Homo sapiens: one gene and its partner. The protein of the gene in region 2 purifies or fractionates together with the protein of the main gene of each other region. This does not show direct contact. Each region holds a gene or a part of one and is shown on either strand. Other genes may lie near its edges.

Evidence for each region. The genes of interacting proteins can lie anywhere in the genome.
Region 1: the proteins of CLPB (region 2) and TRIM11 purify together in Homo sapiens (co-immunoprecipitation; 3 studies listed by BioGRID and IntAct, with this or other methods). This does not show direct contact.

What each region holds. Positions count from the first base shown.
Region 1 is NC_000001.11:228,393,176-228,396,835, reverse strand, and holds the end of TRIM11 (E3 ubiquitin-protein ligase TRIM11), read left to right. Parts: exon of another isoform or gene 1-93; intron 94-1,029; exon of another isoform or gene 1,030-1,125; intron 1,126-1,583; coding exon 1,584-2,131; 3' UTR 2,132-3,160; downstream 3,161-3,660.
Region 2 is NC_000011.10:72,431,434-72,438,526, reverse strand, and holds the start of CLPB (mitochondrial disaggregase), read left to right. Parts: upstream 1-3,995; 5' UTR 3,996-4,052; coding exon 4,053-4,455; intron 4,456-7,093. UniProt on the Homo sapiens protein: Functions as a regulatory ATPase and participates in secretion/protein trafficking process. Has ATP-dependent protein disaggregase activity and is required to maintain the solubility of key mitochondrial proteins.

The DNA.
Region 1 (3,660 bases), on a different chromosome or scaffold from region 2:
TGTCATGGTGGTGGGTTGTTGGGAAAACGTCCTCTGCTCATACTTCTGACATCAGTTGTGTGGGTATTTTCACACCAAACAATTCTTCAACTTCTGGAAACGAATTGGGTATCCAAGGATTCCATTCAGCATTGAACAGAATTGCCAGTGCTGACACTACAGGAGTTAGTACAGACCCCACAGATTAAGGGCTCAGTCCCATAAGACTGCCCCCACTTCAGATGCCAGTCACAACTTCCAGGGGCTGCCCATACTTCTGTTCCCTCAGCGCCTCTGCAGATGTGAGCATTCGCTAGCACAGCCCATGGAACTCAGAAGAGCACTTTACTTACTGTCATTGGTTTATTGTGAAGGATACCACTCAGGAAGAGCCAAATGGAAGAGACACATGGGCAAAGCCTGGGGAAGGGCTCAGAGCTTTCCCACCCTCCCTGGGTGCACCTTCCCAGCACCTCAGTGTGCTCACCAACCTGGAAACTCCCTGAGCCCCAAGAGCTGTTTAGGTGTCTTTGTGGAGGTTCCATTACATGGTTATGATTGATTAAATCATTGGTCATTGGTGATGGGGCTCAACCTCAGACCCCTTTCCCCTTCCTGAGGTCAGAGGCTGGGGCTGAGTGTTCCCGCCCTCTACTGACAGGATTGGTCTTTCTGGTGGCTGGCCTTATGCTGGGCTCTCAGGTCCCCACCTCAGCCACTGCAGTGGCATCAACTCAGGTGTGATGGAAAGGGGCATCTTATGATAGCACAAGATGCTTCTATCAGTCAGGAAATTCCCAGGGTTCTGTGAGCTCTGCGCCAGGAACTGGGCACAAAACCCAAATCTGAGTCTTGTATCACAGTCACCCAAAGGAAGTACTATCCTCAGCTCTTGCTAGCAGGTCAGGAGCCTGTTGTGTAGGAACTGTGTGCAGGCCTCCAGAGGTGGATAGATCTGAAATCGGAGTGGTCAGGGTTGGGACAGCTGCCCTAATTCACATCCTTCATTTGGAGATTGAAAGGAAAAACAGACTGGATGCATTGGCTCACCTCTGTAATCCCAGCACTTTGAGAGGCTCAGGCGGGAGGATTGCTTGAGGCCATCAGTTCAAGACCAACCCGGGAAACATAGCAAGACTCCCATCTCTACAAATAAAAAACAAAAAAATGAGCCAGCCATGGTGGCACACGCCTGTAATCCCAGCAGCTTGGGAGGATCTGAGGCGGGAGGATCATTTGAGCCCAGGAGATCAAGGCTGCAGTGAGCCATGATCGCACCACTGCACTGCAGCCTGGGGCCACAGAGCAAGACCCTGCCTCTTTAAAAAAAAAAAAAAAAGCAACCAAGATTCCCTCTTGATATCTGAAGGCAAAACATGGACCAATTTGTAGGACATTGTAAGTTGCAACTGGACGTAGCTAAGTGGGGAGAGGATGTCCACTTGGAGACAGTTAGTTACTCCAGGAGGTTGTGAGGCTACAGGCCCAGGGCAGAGAGCCAGGCCGTCCGACTGGGAGGATTGTACCTACATGCCCAGGACATGGGCAGATGGCCCCAGCTTGCCTGTGGCTGTGCCTGGGTGACCTTGGGCCTCTCTCTGCAGGGGACGTGACCTTGGACCCGGACACCGCCAACCCTGAGCTGATCCTGTCTGAAGACAGGCGGAGCGTGCAGCGGGGGGACCTACGGCAGGCCCTGCCGGACAGCCCAGAGCGCTTTGACCCCGGCCCCTGCGTGCTGGGCCAGGAGCGCTTCACCTCAGGCCGCCACTACTGGGAGGTGGAGGTTGGGGACCGCACCAGCTGGGCCCTGGGGGTGTGCAGGGAGAACGTGAACAGGAAGGAGAAGGGCGAGCTGTCCGCGGGCAACGGCTTCTGGATCCTGGTCTTCCTGGGGAGCTATTACAATTCCTCGGAACGGGCCTTGGCTCCACTCCGGGACCCACCCAGGCGCGTGGGGATCTTTCTGGACTACGAGGCTGGACATCTCTCTTTCTACAGTGCCACCGATGGGTCACTGCTATTCATCTTTCCCGAGATCCCCTTCTCGGGGACGCTGCGGCCCCTCTTCTCACCCCTGTCCAGCAGCCCGACCCCGATGACTATCTGCCGGCCGAAAGGTGGGTCCGGGGACACCCTGGCTCCCCAGTGACTCGGGCCCTCCTGGAGGAGTCCTGTTGCCTCTCCTGCCCCTCCAGGCCACTGAGTGTTTTGGCCACTTGGAGGACCTGGGAGGAGGGAGTGTGTCCTTTGAGCAAGAGGAGGAACTCCTGGTGCCTTTCTGAGCCTGCGTGGGAGAACCCCAATTCTAGCACTCCAGGAAACTGTGGGAGAGTGTGGGGCAGGCTCCGTCCTCCCTGGGAGACCCCTCCAGCCACCGGGTGCCACTTAATGCCAACAGCCCTTACCAAAGCTGGGAGCCCCATTGCCCCGGCAGCTCTGGCCTGTGGTTCCAGAAGCTGAGAAAACTCCACTGGGGCTTGCAGAATCCAGGGTTCACCTAAGCTGCACAGTTCCTGCAGCTTTGCCAGCCCCCTGAAAGTCTTGTGTACCCCACCTCTGAAGATGCTGGGGGAGGCAGCTGGGATGGGAGCCAGCCCCATGCCTGTCTGTGACCCCACAGTGGGTGAGAGCCCGTCACAGTCCTGGGTGTGGCTGCTCTGGAAGAATTAGGAGGCAGCCATAATAAGAGTCTTCAGAGAGATGATGGGAGGGGCCAGTGAGGACAGGAACAGAGAGTAGATGTCCTATAATAAAGGGGCTTCTGGGAGGTGCCTGGGCACAGATGTCTGTTCAGCAGGTGTGTGGGCCTAGAGGAGAGAGCAGAGCCCAGAAATGTCTTTTGCAGGCCCACGTTCTGACTTGAAGCTTTCGTGGGCATGTTGCCATTGGGTTTTGCCCTTGCAAAGGCTTCCTAGGTCTCCAGTGGCCCCTCAGGACCCAGGGTCCCAGCTGCTGCTTGGGGATGTGCACTGCTGGCCGCCGGCCTTGCAGTCTCTCTACCCTGGGGAGGAACAGTGGCTTCTCAGAGCCTGGGGCATACAGAAGAAGGCAGGAGTTGATTTTTGTGTTGGGTTTGGGGTTTCTTTGTCCTCAAGGTACTGTTCTGTTTCTCTTTACCCCTCTGCTTTATTTATTGTAAGCATTCCCACGTTAAATAAACTTTGGCTGTTGTCTACAAGTCATCCTGCTGGTGCCTGCTTAGTCCAGGAACAATAGCGGGTGCCCCACTGCCCAGCAGAGGGCAGAGCCCCAGGGAGGCTGTTGACGGGGCAGGCGGGAAGCTCAGGCAAAGTAAGGGCCGGGACGGGCAGCCACTTCCCACACCCAGGCACAGATGGGCTCTCCACTTTCTGTGCTCAATATATATGTTCCTTATGTGGAGCTATTGCCGGAATGTTTTTTTCGAGATATCCTGGTAAATGTTTCCTGCATTCCATTGTGCTTAACGAGTAGTCTCCTGATTATCATTTATTCAGTCACTCTCCCATTCTTGTCTTTTTTTTGGCAGGGGCCTGGGGGGGCATTATGTAATACCATGTTGAACAAGATCAGCAGTTTCATTCAGCTGCAACAAAGAGAAGTCTGAGTGGAAACCAGGGGACTGGGCATTTCTCTGTGTTGGGGTGGGGTTTTTGTTTGTTTGTTTGTTGTTTTTTGAGACAGGGTCACCCATGCTGG
Region 2 (7,093 bases):
TTTGTGTGTTTGTTTGTTTTTTGAGACGGAGTCGCCCCGTCGCCCAGGCTGGAGTGCAATGGCGCGATCTTGGCTCACTGCAACCTCCGCCTCCTGGGTTCAAGTAATTCTCCTGCCTCAGCCTCCTGAGTAGCTGGGATTACAGGCGTGTGCCACCACGCCCAGCTAATTTTTTGGATCTTTAGTAGAGACGGGGTTTCACCATGTTAGCCAGGCTGGTCTCGAACTCCTGACCTCAAATGATCCTTCCAACTCGGCCTCCCAAAGTGCTGGGATTATAGGCATTAGCCACTGTGCCTGGCCCTGGATTGGTTATTGACCATACAGAATTCACTCTGAGTCCCAGCTGATTCTAATGGGTGGGGTTTTTTTGTTTGTTTTAATTTTAGTTTATTTTTCTTTTTTTTGGAGACAGGGTCTCACTCTGTTGCCTAGACTGAAGTGCAGTAGTGTGGGGATCCTCCTGCCACAGCCTCCTGAGTAGCTAGAACTACAGGTGTACACCCCCATGCCTGGCTAATTTTTTATTTTTTGCAGAGACTGTGATCTCACCATGTTGCCCAGGCTGGTCTCAAACTCCTGCCCCAAGTGTTGGGATTACAGGCACGTGAGCAAGCACACACGACCCTAATGGGTGTTTCCATACTTCCTCACTACATCCCCCACTCAGAGATTGATAATTTAAGCTTTTCAGTATCCCTACCAAATACTGATAGTAATTAAACCCTTCCTTGAACCCCTCGCAGATGGTATCTGTGAAAATAAAATAAGAAAATCAATGGGGAAGTGCTTTGAAAATTATGCATTGCTAAGTAAACTGAAGGGCCCTGGGATGTGTCTGCAGTGAGAGGGTTTGAACTCTGCATCTGGTAATGGGAGCTTTCGGAGACTGCTCTTCCTGCTGTGACCACCCTAAGTTGGGAGACAGAAATGTTTCAAGAATACAGGGAAGGTGAAGTTGCTATAGTGAATGGGGTGGTTAACAAAATAATATGTGCTGAAAATCTCTCAAAACAGAAAGGTCAAAATGCTTTCATTATTGAGTGCTTTAAAAATGATTTAAAAATAGTTATTCAAGGCTGGGCACGGTGGCTCACGCCTGTAATCCCAGCACTCTGGGAGGCCAAGGCAGGTGGATCATCTGAGGTTGGGAGTTTGAGACCAGCCTGACCAACATGTAAAACCCCGTCTCTACTAAAAATACAAAAAAAATTAGCCAGGTGTGGTGACACATGCCTGTAATCCTAGCTACTCGGGAGGCTGAGGCAAGAAAAGCGCTTGAACCTGGGAGGCGGAGGTTGCGGTGAGTCAAGATCGCGCCATTGCACTCCAGCCTGGGCAACAAGAGCAAAACTCCATCTCAAAAAAAAAAAAAAGTTATTAAAGCCAGGCGCAGTGGCTCACGCCTGTAATCCCAGCACTTTAGGAGGCTGAGGCAGGAGGACTGCTTGAGCCCAGGAGTTCAGACCAGCTTGGGCATCATAGCGAGACCTAGTCTCTACCCAAATAATAATAATAATAATAATAACAAAAAATTAGCTAGGTGTAGTGGTGCCAGCTGTGGTCCCAGCTACTCAGGAGGCTGAGGTGGTGGGATGATCCCTTGAGCCCAGGAGGTTTCAGGTTGCAGTAACAACTGTACTCCAGCCTGTGTAACAGAGCGTGACCCTGTCTCAAAAAAAACCAAAAAAGTCGCTCATTCATTCCTGTCTTACTAACGGATGTGGAAATGAGAAGTTCCATCTTTGCCTGGAGGAAGTGTAGAATACACAGAGCAGAGAATATACAATGATAGCTACCATTTCTTGAAGACCTACTGTGAGCCAGGGACAGTGTTAGGGGCTTTCTACATATTATCTTATTTAATACAAGCAATCATCTTGAAGGCAGGAATTGATATCTTCAACAATGAGTAATTAACTACCAGAGAGGTAAAGGGAGTTTGTCCAAGGTCACCCATATAAATGCAAGAGTCAAAATTAAAATCCACGTCTGCCTGAATGCCAAAGCTCAAGTACTCTCCAACACTAATAAGGTGAGAGTAATCCATTCACTGAAAAAAATATTTGAGTGCCTCAGGCCGGGCGCGGTGGCTCACACCTGTAATCCCAGCACTTTAGGAGGCCGAGGCAGGTGGATCACGAGGTCAGGAGATCGAGACCATCCTGACTAATACAGTGAAACCCCGTCTCTACTAAAAATACAAAAAAATTAGCCGAGCATGGTGGCGGGAGCCTGTAGTCCCAGCTACTCGGGAGGCTGAGGCAGAAGAATGGCGTGAACACAGGAGGCTGAGCTTGCAGTGAGCTGAGATCGTGCCACTGCACTGCAGCCTGGGCGACAGAGCAAGACTCTGCTTCAATAAATAAATAAATACATAAAAATAAAAAAACTGAGTGCCTCTTTTGTTCCAGACATTGTTCTGAGTGCTAGTGATATAAAAGTGAAAAAACAAAGTCCTTGTCTCATGGGGCTCATGCTGTAGTGGAGAAAGACAATAAAAATGTAGTATGTCAGATGGTGATAAATGCTGTGAAGGAAAATTAGGATGGGGTGCGTAGGATTACTATTTTAACCAGAATGGTCAGGGAAGACTCTGATCATGTGAAGTCTGAGCAGACGTACAAGACTTGGAAGAAACAGAACTGGCACAAAGAAGAACTTCCTCCTTTGCCTACCTATGGGTTCAGTTTGGAAAAGAGGGGGCGGGATGGGAGTGCAGGTGTTAATGGAAACTATATGCTCAAAATCAGAAGACCTGAGCATTACTTTACTCCAGGTGATTTACTGGCAAATCTTTTCACCTTTGAGCCTCAATTCCCTTCACTGTAGACGGGAATAACAGTTCTTGCCCAGCTTCTCACACACAGCTGCCATGAGGATCAGATGAGATGACCCACTTGAAAGCCCTTTAAAAATAACACAATCAGGGCCAGGCGCAGTGGCTCACGCCAGTAATCCCAGTACTTAGGGAGGCTGAGGCAGGTGGGTCGCTTGAGGTCAGGAGTTGGAGACCAGCCTGGCCAACATGGTGAAACCCCGTCTCTACTACTAAAAATACAAAAATTAGCCAAGCGTGGTGGTGCGTGCCTGTAATCCCAGCTACTCGGTAGGCTGAGGTGGGAGAATCGCTTGGACCAGGGAGACGGAGGTTGCAGTGAGCCGAGATGGCGCCACTGCACTCCAGTTTGGGCGGCAGAGTGAGATTCTGTCTCAAAAAAAAAAAAAAAAAAAAGACCGGAAGTCAACTCTTCAAATAAAATGTATTCCTATCTCAGGTGCAGTAGTTACCCTAAACATCTTTTTGAAAGGCCGCCCAGGCTGAAAAAAGAGATAGGCTAAACTAAATAAGCATAAGTTTCATAATATGCCTCTGCTGAAGATTCTTGGGTAATTTACACCAGTCAAAAATTGTGGGCCGGGCGCGGTGGCTCACGCTTGTAACCCCAGCATTTTGGGAGGCCGAGGCGGGCGGATCGCCTGAGGTCAGGAGTTAGAGACCAGCCTGGCCAACGTGGTGAAACCCCGTTTCCACTAAAAATACAAAAATTAGCTGGGCATGGTGGCGGGCGCCTGTAATCCCAGCTACTCGGGAGACTGAGGTAGGAGAATTGCTTGAACACAGGAGACGAAGGTTGCAGTGAGCCGAGATCGCGCCACGGCACTCCGGCCTGTGAGACAGAGCGAGACTCCGTCTCAAAAAAAAAAAAAAAAAAAAAGTGTGTCGTGTGCTTCAACTAAACTAGGAAAGAAGTCTTGGGATTCTAATCTTTAACTCTAATCGCCACGCCCCTTCACCCGAACTCTATTTCCCAATATGCCCCGGGCTTCTATAATCCCGCAGTCATTGTGACGCAATCCCACAGCCTTCTGGGAAACGTAGTTTATTTATTCTCCAGCTGGGGAAAGGCTTAGGGCTGTGGACTACCTCTCCCGTGAGGTAGTGCGCAACTCCACCCTGTTCGCGGCGTCTTCGAACGCGCCGCGGCAGCCATGTTGGACGTGGTCAGCACAGGGGCCGGCACCACGGGGTTATCGAAGCAGCTGTCAAGATGCTGGGGTCCCTGGTGTTGAGGAGAAAAGCACTGGCGCCACGGCTACTCCTCCGGCTGCTCAGGTCCCCAACGCTCCGGGGCCATGGAGGTGCTTCCGGCCGGAATGTGACTACTGGGAGTCTCGGGGAGCCGCAGTGGCTGAGGGTAGCCACCGGGGGGCGCCCTGGAACATCGCCGGCCTTGTTCTCCGGACGTGGGGCAGCCACCGGGGGGCGCCAGGGAGGACGCTTCGATACCAAATGCCTCGCGGCTGCCACTTGGGGACGCCTTCCTGGTCCCGAAGAAACACTCCCAGGACAGGACAGCTGGAACGGGGTCCCCAGCAGGGCCGGACTGGGCATGTGCGCCCTGGCCGCAGCGCTGGTGGTTCATTGCTACAGCAAGAGTCCGTCCAACAAGGGTGATTATGAGATCTGGGTTTGAGGAAGGGAGAGGCGGGAAGATTGTCCTAACTTCGTATCTTAGGAGGGTGGGAGGTACTTATAGGTTTAGATCCTTAGAGCCTAAGTCTTGGAGGGACTCAGACATCATCTGGTTACAGGGGCAGGGTGTTGCCCTAGAGACCTCATCACCTCGGAGTTGTATAATCTCGTACCATAGATCCGCTTCCCCTCTCTGGGCATCATTTTATCCATCTGTACAATGGGGATATTGGACTAAACATCTAATATTATAGCATGGTCCCCTTATGTTTCTCATATTCTGCCTGGTCCAATTCCTCTTTCCTGAGATCTCCAGGAAACGGAAATTATGGGGTGTTTTAAGGGCAACCGCCAGATGGTTTAGAGAAGTTGCCAAACCGCTCCCCCCTACCCCCCGCCACCAAAGGTGCCAGAGTCAGGAACAACCTGACTCGGTTCTAATGCCAGCTTGACCTCAATTTATTTATTTATTTATTTATTTATTTATTTATTTATTTATTTATTTATTTCTGAGATGGAGTCTTGCTCTGTCGCCAAGCTGGAGTGCAGTGGCGCAATCTCGGCCCACTGCAACCTCCGCCTCCCGGGTTCAAGCTATTCTCCTGCCTTAGCCTCCCAAGTAGCTGGGACTACAGGTGCGGGCCACCACACCCAGCTAATTTTTGTATTTTTAGTTGTTGGTCAGGATGGTCTCGATCTCTTGACCTCCTGATCCACCCGCCTTGGCCTCCCAAAGTACTGGGATTACAGGCGTGAGCCACCGCGTCTGACCAATTTCTTTATTTATATAGTGAAGGATAGTTTCCCAACATTTTTACAGTACTGTTATTTTGACTCTTTTTGGAGTTCAGCGGCCTGAGTCTGTCAGTCTCAGGATTTTGCTGTGTCTGGTCTCACATGCTGTGAGGTGATCTTGCCATGTGGGATAGTTGGCAGGAGAAGGAAGGTGGATTCCTGGAGGCCCAAGGGCAACTGCTGGGGGACTGGCTGATCCCGATTAGCATCTCATTTGGATCCGGGGAGCTAAGCAGCAGCTGAGAGAGTGGACAGAGAGCCAGACTGATGACCTATGTGAGTCCAGCCATTCAGGTTCTTAGTTGTTCCTCAAGAAGAAAGACTGAGGCATGGTGTCCATAGATTCCATGCACCCCAAGCTCTGAGAATTTGGAGCAAGAGTTGGGGAGTAGGGAGTGCCTTGACTTTGATTCGTTTGATGTGGCCAATTGTAAAGGAAGGACTTTGGTCTGGGAGAGACAACACTGGGGATCTTGTTTTGGTTCTGTGTCTAACTCTCATTGTGAATTTGGACTTTTGCTTCTCCTCACGGGTCCTCTGTTTCCTCATCTACAAAATGAGGGTTTTGAAATAGACACTAAGGGCATCGAGCTTAGGCATGTTGTAATCCTATAACTTCCAGCATTTTTGGGGGTACCCACTGTGTGTCTAGTTTTAGGCTAGGTGTGTGGGAAGTCCTAACTTAACACAAAATCAGTCAAGGGGACAGTGCAGGCAGTTGGAATGTAGGGCTGGTGAGTGGTGCTATGTGTCGTTGGGGGATCAGAGGGCCAGTAGGGTCAGGAAAGCCTTTCTGGAGTATTGGAGACCCCAGAGGATGGGAAATTTGAACTTGAGTTCTGAAGGATGAAGTAGAAACGGAAAGGGGAGTGATCTTTTGAGCCCCATGAGAGCAGGAAATGTATCTTCTCTTTTGTTTTTTCAGGTTATACTAGCAACTTTCCCGAATACCTAGACATCATTTGCCCACCACAGTGTCTGGAACTTAGTAGGTGCTCAGTAAATGTGTGAGAGTTGGATTATATTCCATGCAAAGGCTTCAGGGAATGGAAATAACAGTTTCGGGGCACCATGGTGTGTGCAGGGGCCAGCAGAGCAGCCAGCTTGGTTGGAGGATAAGGTCTTTGGAATTAGATGAGAGCAGATGGAGTGGGGCCTGGATGCCAGTCAGGGGTGGGGTAGGTGAGGGTGTTGGAATTTCTTCTGTAGGCAGTGGAGAGTTATGGAAGGTTCATGAGCAGGGAATGTTCTGAGTCCAGTGTATTTGGTGAGGTCTTGCCTAAGAAGTTCCTGGGGGTTCCCAACTGGACTTTATGGCCTATGAACTCCAGCAAGAATACCAGGGTCTATTTACCAAAATAGATAATGGTCAAAGCCGTGACCAGTTCCTGCTGGAACTGACTTGCCAGCTACCCTGTCCCCTGACTTAGAGTTTTGACCCTCAGTGCAGTGTGGTAGAAACTGAACCCTTTTAGAAGCCAGGAGGCCCTGGTTCTTAGCTCATTCCTCACTCTGTAACCTTGTAGAAGCCACATTTTTTTCTGCAGAGTGAAGGGAGAGTGGATATAGCCATCTCTAAGGAAGGCTTGATCCCCTCCCAGCTGGTGGCTGTCTGAGCCATGCTTGGGTATGTGCTTTAGGTACATCCGGTAAGGTAAGTAGAAAGGACCTGTCCCTGGAATCTAGGCCAGGAGGCATCAATGTCTGAACCACAGGACTGGCTTTCATATGCATGATAAGGTGTATTGTACAGATAAGGAAACTAAGGCTCAGGAGGTTAGATAGGTGGGCTAGGTTATACAGCAAATAAGCGACAGAGCT